Linked DNA regions of Homo sapiens: region 2 is linked to region 1. Evidence: fine-mapped expression QTL. Tissue or cell type: whole blood. Region 1 holds a variant in brackets; the other region holds the start of a gene. All regions are shown on one strand. Distances are between the middles of the regions.

Region 1 (5,220 bases):
CGGGCAGCGTTAGGCCCACTTGAGGTTTGTGGTCATTAATTGAAAATGGGAGGAATAAGCATGATTGTGCTTCTCCACTGCAGTTATTCATCTGTAAAATGGGGCTATCAGTGCCTTTCTCCGTCGGGTTGTTGGAGGATGTGAGGATTAAACATCTTAGTACAGGTAACATGCCTGGTACATATCACTTAATGAGTGTTAATTATTGTCCTGTAGAGTACATTGTTATCTTGTGTACATATCTCTGTTTTGATCACAAATAAGTGGACTCATAGAACTAAAGGTTAAAAATCATCGAGTCCAACCACTTACTTGATAACCTGAATTTCATCTACATCCTCATTCGGCCTTTGTTTGAGCTGCTTAGGGTAGGGCACATATTCTGTCCCAAAGCAGTCATTTCATCTTTGGACATCTCAAATAACTGGAATGGTCTTCCTTCTTTCATAGTGAAATTTGCCCTGTGGTAACTTTCACCAAAACTTACCCATTGGGCCACACTGAAAAAATCATCCTTGTCTATGGTTCCATCTCTCCTACAAACGGCACTCTTCATGTTTGACTATAGAGCAGACAGCATTCTGTGCAGCCGGTCTCAACCTTTTCAATACACCCTCCAACCTTTCCTTCCTTATCAGTATCATTTGCATTTGCAGAAGGAAAAAAAAGTCTATTTTTCAATACTTTCACCCCCTGGAGCCACATTCTTGTTAAAGTGTCTGACTTTGTTACCTTGCTTTTTTCTGCAGAGAAAAGTGGATAATCTGCTTTTTTCTAGTCTAGAACAATTTTCCTTTACTGCGTTTTGTAGAACACTGTAAGATTCTAACGATTGTTTCACTTAAAGACGGTTTAACACAAGCAAATAATTTTGAAAAACTGTAGTCAAAATTGCAGTTTTCTCATGTTGAAATAGCTAACATATACTATCAATTCCCAAAAAGGTAGCTGTAGTGCATTTCCTAAATGTATTTGTTAACAAAACATTTTGTTGTTGTTGCTGCTCATTTCCTGGAACTAGCATTCCACAGAATAATCTTTGGGAAACACTCATTCAGAAAAACGTCTCTTAAACTTAACTAACACATGACATATAAAATGTTGGCTTATATTACATGTATTATAAAGTTGCATAAATATGCACAATCATAAAACTAGGTGTTAACGCCAATCTTTATGCTTATAGTTCTTATATAAGCAACTATATAACTATAAAACCAAATCAATTTATAAAATAAATATAAGTAAAACAAATGAACTTCAAATCGACCACATTAAGTTAATGTGATATGTAATATTGCTTTGTTTAAACAAAATCACCAATGCAGAGTTTATTGATAATGACATAACATATTATTATTAACGGTTCTTTTTTATTTTGTACATGATACACTTGCATTTGAATCAATAATATGATTGCTGATCATTTCAGTTTTTTAAAAAGAAACTCATAACCACAAATTTATTTTTGGATAGGTCAATCAATTAAGGATTCACTTCCAAATAAAATACTATAATTTTAAAAAACTTTTTGAACAAAAAAATTATTGTATATTTATTTTCTTCTGTTGAACTGTATCAAGTTGGTATGAACAAAGAATACAAGTAAAACATTTAAAATATTGATACCATATGAATGTACTCACTATATGCACAGATTCTTTTTTTTTTTTTTTTTTTGAGACGGGGTCTCTGTTGCCCAGGCTGGAGTGCAGTGGAGCCATCTTGGCTCACTGCAACCTCCACCTCCCAGGTTCAAGCGATTCTCCTGCCTCAGCCTCTTGTGTAGCTGGGATTACAGGTGCCTGCCACCACACCCAGCTAATTTTTGTATTTTTACTAGAGATGGGGTTTCACTGTGTTGGCCAGGGTGGTCTCAAACTCCTGACCTCTTGATCCACCCGCCTTGGCCTCCCAAAGTACTGGGATTACAAGCGTGAGCCATCGCACCCGGCCAGATTCTTTAAAGTCTGACATTTCTATTCTTCTGTCACGTGGTTGTGATAGTCGTTCTCCCAGCGCTTTTACTTTCTTGACCTAGTGCAAAACCTTCATTCACAGGACACTCTAGGATATTATTTAGACTTCACTTGGCAGAAATATAATAATAGACGCAAACTCAGGCACTAAAACTGGGTGACCATATTCAGTTTTTAAGATAATTATCTATAACCCAGAAAATTTTTATATTATTTTCAGAAATTATTATAAAAGTGGAACCAATAATGGGAAAATAGAGATGAGGAGCTGCTGAAATGTCCATAATGATCTTTGCAGAGAGTGTGGATTGGCAGCCTCTGTTTTTTTGCACAGGGATGAAGAGAAACAGCTCAGCCGAAGTCTCCAGCACTCCCTTTTCTCCTCTACAGTTCTCCACCCACCCACCGGCCCAAAACACACAGGAAAGAAAACTGTCAGGTATATTTTTACATTCCTCACACCAGTGTGTTTCTTCCATTTGAAGCTGTAAGGCTTTTTAATCTATTATTGTAGAAGAAAGGCTTTTCCTCTCATTAAAGGGAATTCAAGTTCAGACTCCCTGGACTGATAGAGGATTCTGGATTTGGGGCTGGAGAAGATATATACTGTGATTTTCTCCTTAGAATTTAAGCTATAGTTC[G/A]GGATAAAATCTAAGCTAATGCTAATCTAATCTGAACTCTAACCTCCACTTGCAGGTGTAGGGAGTGTGATCTGCCACAAGACACCCCAAGTTCCTTTTTCACAGTGCCCTGTCCCCCGTACCAGAGTTGTCTCCAGCCTTGTGCTTTCTCCCTGCTTGCCTCTCCTGTTTCCTCTAGGGGCCCCCCCTTAGTCCTCCTCACCCTTCACCCTTCCTGCCCAAGGAGGAAGAAATTCCTCTAGGACCATGCTTCTGTGGAACTGGGAAGTGGTGGGCTGGCATGAAAAAGAAATGAAAGGCACCTCATCTAAAGAGAAGCTCAACTCCTAAGAAATAACATGCTTGCTTTTTGTCTTTCAACTCTTGGATGATAATAAACACACTAGGACGTTGAAGATTACAAAACACAGAACGTGGTCTCCAGGTCCACACTGATGATCTTTAACTACAAAAAAAATAGTGGGCAACTCTGGTTCAGCTAAATGGGAATATGTCTTAATGGTTTTCTCTGGATAGTAACCTCTTTCATTTACCTGCATTTCCTAATCTGAAAATCTCTAAGAGGTCAATATTCCACTGAAGTCAGGCATGGAAGGATCCTTGCCTCTTCTTCAAGAAAAAAGAAGGAAAGATAAATAAAACTGCACTCTGGGACTAAGAGCATGCAACTCAGATACTTGATACAAGGCATGCTCCGAATTCCTTTCTGTATAGTAGTGTTCACAGTTTTTTCTTCTCATTTTTACTTTTTAATTTCTTAACTTTTTTCTCAGTTGTTCAACAAACGTTTATTAAGCCCCTTTCATGTGATGGGCTCCCTGCTAAGTGTTTCCGGATTTAAAGAAGAAAAAGATTGGTGCCTGCCTTCGAAGGACTTTCAGTCTAGAGACAGACACTATACTATAAACTATAAATAGCCAAGTTAACAAATAATTTGCAATACATAATCATTCCTTAACTTGTTCAGAGCTGGTATGCCCATCTACATTTCCTTTATTTTTTATTTTCTGTTATAATCTCCACAGAGCAAGGCTCACCCTGGCCTGCCCAGGTTCTGCAGAGCTTGCTTACAATCTTTCAGAGAAGAGCATTCAGCATAGCTGCTTTTGATAATGAAGATATGGAGCTTTATATAATGACAACTGATCCATCTATAGATTGCAAGCTCTTTGTGCAGGCCTGTGTCTAATTGTCCATTTTGTATAGCAGCTAATCCACTGGGAAAATACCTTAAGTGTTTAAAAAAAAAAAAATGTGTAGCAATATTCCCCTGCTGCCACCTGGTGCTTTATTTACACTAAGTTACACTCTGAATTCTAGGTAAGGCAGCTTAAAATCATTTACCACACTCAACTATAAAATGAAATCCCAGCCCCTCAATACACACGCAAGCACATACAAATACATACTGATCACACATACATACACTCCTTCATTCCTTCCATCTCTGCTAGCCCAGAGCAGACATTTCTTCATGTTTTGAAGAAATGCTACTATGATAGCCAGAATTGAATCTTGAGAACTATGTTCAGTTAAGACTAGAGAATAGGACTAAGATAGTGTAATTGAAAAAACTTTCTGCTAGGCCGGGTGCGGTGGCTCACACCTATAATCCCAGCACTTTGGGAGGTCAAAGCAGGTGGATCACCTGAGGTCAGGAGTTCGACACCAGCCTGGCCAACATGGTGAAACCCCATCTCTACTAAAAATACAAAAATTAGCTGAGCATGGTGGCATGCACCTGTAATCCTAACTACCCGGGAGGCTGAGGCACAAGACTCCCTTGAACCCGGGATGTGGAGGTTGCAGTGAGCCAAGATCGCACCACTGCACTACAGCCTTGGAGACAGAGTGAGACCCTCTCATAAAACAAACAAACAAACAAACAAACAAAATATAACTTTCTTCTTTCTTCTGGATGACAAAATTGTGTGCTATACTGACGAGCCTGTGTAAAGAGTTAATGAAGCAGGCCGGGATCATCAGCTGTCAGTTAATTCATCATGAAATATTTTTGAAGACCCATAATTCAAAGCTCTGGAGAATCAGTGGTGAGCAAGAAGAATACCTTCTATGCTCAAAAGGAAGTTATATTCTAGTGTGGAGAGTGCTGTTAAGCTCCTAAACAAATTTTTAAAAATCAGGCAGGAGTAAGGGATAAAAAATACATAAAATATGGGGCTATGACTCAGGCGCTGCTTCCGTTAGTGGGGGCAGGGATGGCCCCTCAGAGGAGGTCACATTTGGGACTCGAGGCAATATTGATCATGAGGAAGACAGCTGTGTTAAAATCTAAAGGAAGAGCATTTCAGGCAAAAAAATGACAGCACAGGCCCCACGAAGAGAAAGACTTTGGTATCTTCAGGGAAGGCGGGAAGGCCGGGGTGGCCAGAGCAATGTGAGATGAAGGAGGGGTGGGTGGAGAAAGACTGGCTGGTGAGCGTGGGAGGGTTGGAGCAGGAGTGCCAATAGATTAGGGATTTGATTTGGTTCTGTAAGCAAAGGCAAAACCACTAGAGGGATTTAAGTAAGGGGGCAACACAATCTGTGCTGCTCTTCTGAATAATCACTCTGAAGGATGAATTCCAGGGGGAAGAGTA
Region 2 (5,220 bases), 250 kb before region 1:
TGCAAAAACCACTCATGAGCAGCCACATAGGACAGAGGTCCCTCTGGAGAAGCCACCAAAGGATATAAATCTCTCTTCAGGTTTGTTTTGAGAAAACACCCAAGCAGGAAAGCTGCTGTACAAAATTACTATTGCCCCATTATGCGATTGTGTTTTACTTTTGTCTTAGCATTAATCCTACCTTGTGGGGAAAAGAAAGAGAGCTCAGACTGCTACTGTGTCTGTGTAGAAAGAAGTAGAAATAAGAGACTCCATTTTGGTCTGTTCTAAGAAAAATTCTTCTGCCTTGAGATGCTGTTAATCTGTAACCCTACCCCCAACCCTGTGCTCCCTGAAACATGGGCTGTGTCCACTCAAGGTTAAATGGATTCAGGGCTGTGCAGGATGTGCTTTGTTAAACAAATGCTTGAAGGCAGCATGCTTGTTAAGAGTCCACTCCCTAATCTCAAGTACCCAGAGACACAATACACTGCGGAAGGCCGCAGGGACCTCTGCCTAGGAAAGCCAGTTATTGTCCAAGGTTTCTCCCCATGTGATAGCCTGAAATATGGCCTTGTGGGAAGGGAAAGACCTGACCGTCCCCCAGCCTGACACCCATAAAGGGTCTGTGCTGAGGAGGATTAGTAAAAGAGAAAGGAAGGCCTCTTTGCAGTTGAGATAAGAGGAAGGCATCTGTCTCCTGCTCATCCCTGGGCAATGGAATGTCTCGGTGTAAAACCCGATTGTATATTCCATTGACTGAGATAGGAGAAAACCACCTTAGGCCTGGAGGTGGGACATGTGGGCAGCAATACTGCTCTTTAAGGCATTGAGATGTTTATGTGTATGCACATCAAAAGCACAGGACTTTTTTCTTTACCTTGTTTATGATGCAGAGACATTTGTTCACATGTTTTCATGCTGACCGTCTCTCCACTATTACCCTATTGTCCTGCCACATCCCACTCTCTGAGAAATGCCCGATAATGATCAATAAATACTAAGGGAACTGAGGCTGGTGCCAGCGCAGGTCCTCTGTATGCTGAGCGCCGGTTCCCTGGGCCCACTTTTCTTTCTCTATACTTTGTCTCTGTGTCTCTTTTTTTTCTTAAGTCTCTCATTCCACCCGACGAGAAATACCCACAAGTGTGGAGGGGCAGGCCACCCCTTCACTACCTGATTTTTATTTATTGCTTGTCTCCTCCTTTTAAAATGTAAGATCCAGGAGATAAGTGGCCTCTATCTTCAGTACCATAGAGTGCTTGGCACATAGTATGTAATTCAGTCAGTGTCAGGCCTCTGAGCCCAAGCTAAGCCATCATATCCCCTGTGACCTGCACGTACACATCCAGATGGCTGGTTCCTGCCTTAACTGATGACATTCCACCACAAAAGAAGTTTAAATGGCCCGTCTTTGCCTTAAGTAATGACATTACCTTGTGAAAGTCCTTTTCCTGGTTCATCCTGGCTCAAAAAGCTCCCCTACCGAGCACCTTGTGACCTCTCACTCCTGCCCGCCACAGAACAAACCCCCTTTGACTGTAATTTTCCTTTACCTACCCAAATCTTATAAAACGACCCCACCCCTATCTCCCTTCGCTGACTCTTTTCGGACTCAGCCCACCTGCACCCAGGTGAAATAAACAGCTTTATTGCTCACACAAAGCCTGTTTGGTGGTCTCTTCACACGGACGCGCATGAAAGTCAGTATTTATGAATGACTCAAGACACAAAAATAGCTTCATAAAACAGTGCTTTGCTTGAGTTTTTATGAATAAACCAATCTGAAGTCATCCCTTTTCTAGCTCAGAACAAATTTCTCCCTTTTATTTTAGAGGAAGATGAGAATGGAGGGTACAAATTTAACATGAGTTTACTGAAGAAGGAAGCACCAAGATTAACCTAAATGAGAATACTATTCTAATGACATTAGCCAGAGAATAATATCGTTCCTGTTCCAGTACTGCCAATTACCATTACAAGTCCCAATATCTTCATTTACAATGTGGGGACAATTATAACACCTAATTATTGGTTATTGTGAAGGTTAAATAAGAAAATATACTTAAAGCCCTTAGGACACCACCCAGAACTTCATCAATAAATGCAGCTATTTTGTTATTATCATATTTATATTAGTGGTATACTACATCATAAATCCACTCAAAGCTGATGCTGAGTCACGGTGACCCCTAACTGAACACATTGCCTCAATCTGCTCCCCATAATGCACTTGAGATACCCACTGCCACAATGACGTCTTTGGTGATTTTAATTTACTACTATTCAGAGGTTCCCAATTTTGGCCTACAGGTCACAGGCAGTAAGAAAGGGATTTCAGGGACTAAATCAATTTATCACTAGGTAAACCGAACAAGAACAGTTTGATCTTATCGTGAATCACTGGAGGGCACGGAACAAGTCTTACTTCTAGAACCCCCAGGGCCCAGCGGAGTGTCTGACACATGATAGTCGATGTTGATTAAATAATAAATGAATGATGAACACATGCCACCTCCTTGACGGGCAGTTCAGGCAATCAGACGTCCTGTGCGTGATCAGACGCCTAGCGCTTCAGAAGCACGACTGGTGAGAACTGGGCAGCCCTTCCACGCTCCGCACTGCAAGAACTGCCTGTCCGGAAGGGTGACTGCACCAGCTCCGCTCCGGATATCTTGGCAGGACGCGCCCTCTGGCGGCGCCTCGCTCGTAGGTGGGCCCCAGCGCGCAGTCGCGCGCCCCCGCGCGTTGGGAAGTTGGGAGGGAGGTGCGCGCTTGGCCGCGCGGGGCGGGGCCTCTACCGGCCCGATGGAGCGCGCGGGCGCTACTAGCCGCGGGGGCCAAGCCCCTGGCTTCTTACTGCGGCTTCATACTGAGGGCCGAGCCGAGGCGGCGCGGGTGCAGGAGCAGGACTTACGGCAGTGGGGGCTGACAGGTGAGCGGGCTCCGGGCGGACTTCGGCCAGGCGGGCCAACCTATTGGGACTGCCTCTTGCGGGCCGGGGGCGCAGCGGGTGGGCCGCCCGGTGGGCAGTTTACCCGCTCGCGCCAGGGCCTTCCTTCGCTCCTGCCGTGGGCGGAGAGAAACTGCGCCCGGGCTTGGTGGCCACGGCCCCCGCCTGCGCGGCGCGCGGGGCCGGCGGACGCCAGATGAATGAGGTCGCGGGCCCGGTAGCCAGGCCTGGCCCCTGGCCTGTGGAGGGGAAACGTGGTGAGATCAGCGCCACCTGCAGGCCTCCGCTGAAGAGTTGGACGGCCTGGTGCACCAAGGATGTAGGTTTCCAGTTGCTGTTCCGGTGGGTTTGGGTCCCGGCCTGGGGAGTTTATTGGTTGCTTCTGTAAAACGATCAACTCATCTCCCAGCTTCAGCTTCTCCGTTTACTGTGCGCGCGCAGTTATTGGAGAATTCGCCACGGATTAATTCTCCGGATCGAGTTACGTGCGGTAGTGAGCGGACAAACTCAAGCAAAGCACTGTTTATGAAGCTATTTTTGTGTCTTGAGTCATTCATAAATACTGACTGAACCACGTACTATATGCCAACTTAGCTTGTCCGCTCACCACCGCACGTAACTCGATTTATTGACACTAGCCCTTACGGAGAGTCTGCAAAGCGCGAACCTTGCATGCCCCCCAGCCCTGCCGCTGCATGGCTGACCGTACTTCCTGCAGCTCCGAGACCCCGCTCTCCTCCTGGGTCTGCGCTGACTCGCCGCTGAACCGCCCCAGCCTCGTTTTCCTTACTTATAAGTTGGGAACGTAGTGTGTGCTTTGACTGTATTGACAGAATCATGCATCAGTAATAATACAGTCGTTTATTCATTACTTATTGAATGCTACTGGGAGCGTATTCTTAGGCATTGGCTACAAAGATGAGCAAAACAAATAGGGACCCTTCCTACCTAGAGTTTTAGACTAGTGAGAGTGCATTTAAAAGTATAAACTAATTTATTTAAGTGCTCAGTACCACGAAAGAGTAAGGTTTGTCATTCTAGGAATGAAACAAAAGGTGCAATTCTGTGTTCAGCTTAGAAGACTGAAAGATGAAGTTGAATGGAGAGGACGCTGACATGAAAGAGAAAGACCTCTCTCCTTGATTCCCTGAGTCTGTAAGAATGTGTGGCTGTAAGGAGTATGTATCCAGTTTTAAGTATGAGCTTGTAGACTGGTCTTTTTATGTTTGACTTTATCTTAACGAAAGTTTATGTTTGTGGGTTTGCCTATTTCCTTGCAAGTGTTGGGAATGGTTCTTTAAGAACTTGTGTGAGAGAGGGCTCAGAAAAGTGTGCCAGTTGATACTTAGCTGTGGATAATATGCCAGGAGAAACGTACATATGGGCAAGTGTTTTAGTGAAAATGAGGAGACAAGAGGTTGCAAGTTTGAGTGGATGGAATGGAGTGAGTAAATTCAGAATTAAGTAGGCAAATGTGGCAACTTGGATAAATTGGTAGTGGAGAAGGAAAATAGAAAAGCAGAGTCAAAGGAATGGCTACTGAATATTATAACTTGTAATTTCTATTTCTGTTTACCAGAATAAACTAGTGTTATGAGAAACTATTCTTCATGAGTTGGTTAAAAAAATTCTTACTACTTTTTTTTCGTTTGGTTACAGAAGTAGTACGTATTTTCAGTAAAACATTCAGGGAAATAGCCTATGCATAAAGAAAATAAATATTAATCTCCATAATCTCCTTACTGTTAACATGTTCTCTATCCTGTATAATTTCTTTTACTTTCTGGTGGAGGGGGAAGGTGAAAAATGGAGTTTCATGTACATTTTTTTGGGAAATCATAACTTTTTTTCCTTATCATTCAGTCTTCTTCAACATCATTCTTAATGGTTACAGTTTTTCAGTATATGGATGTACCATAGTTTAGACAGTCCCTCTTCTTGGTATTTAGGTTCTTTTTTTTGCTATTGTAAGTAACATAAATATCCTTGTAACCAAATATTTATTATAGGTATGGACGTTTAATTCCTGAAAGGTACCATTTCTAGAATAAAGAGTATGCAAAATTTTTGCTTATTTCTCTATACTCTCAGCAACACTGGTATTTTCTAATTTGAGAAGTTAATATGCTATCGTATTGTTTAATTTAATGTTTATTTGGTTACCAATATTGATGGACATTTGGATATTCATCTTTGGATCATGAAGTTACCTTAGGACCTTTTTGTTTCTGGAATATGCAGACCTATTACTTCTTGCTGTTTTGCTTGCTTTTTCACTACTTGTCATC

Evidence for each region. PIP is the estimated chance that this variant, and not a neighbour inherited with it, causes the effect.
Region 2: it holds the start of CHD1L, and the variant in region 1 is fine-mapped to the expression of CHD1L in whole blood (TOPMed, PIP 0.92).

What each region holds. Positions count from the first base shown.
Region 1 is chr1:147,488,503-147,493,722 of GRCh38, forward strand. The region is part of intron 3 of LINC00624 (long intergenic non-protein coding RNA 624); the gene reads right to left. Among named protein-coding and RNA genes, the nearest start is that of LINC00624, 27 kb to the right of the region's middle. The variant G/A (reference allele first, on the strand shown) is at 2,621.
Region 2 is chr1:147,239,917-147,245,136 of GRCh38, forward strand. CHD1L (chromodomain helicase DNA binding protein 1 like) reads left to right here and starts at 2,768. Exons shown (of 23, transcript NM_004284.6): 1 at 2,768-2,914. The coding sequence starts at 2,788. RefSeq lists a silencer at 2,600-3,219.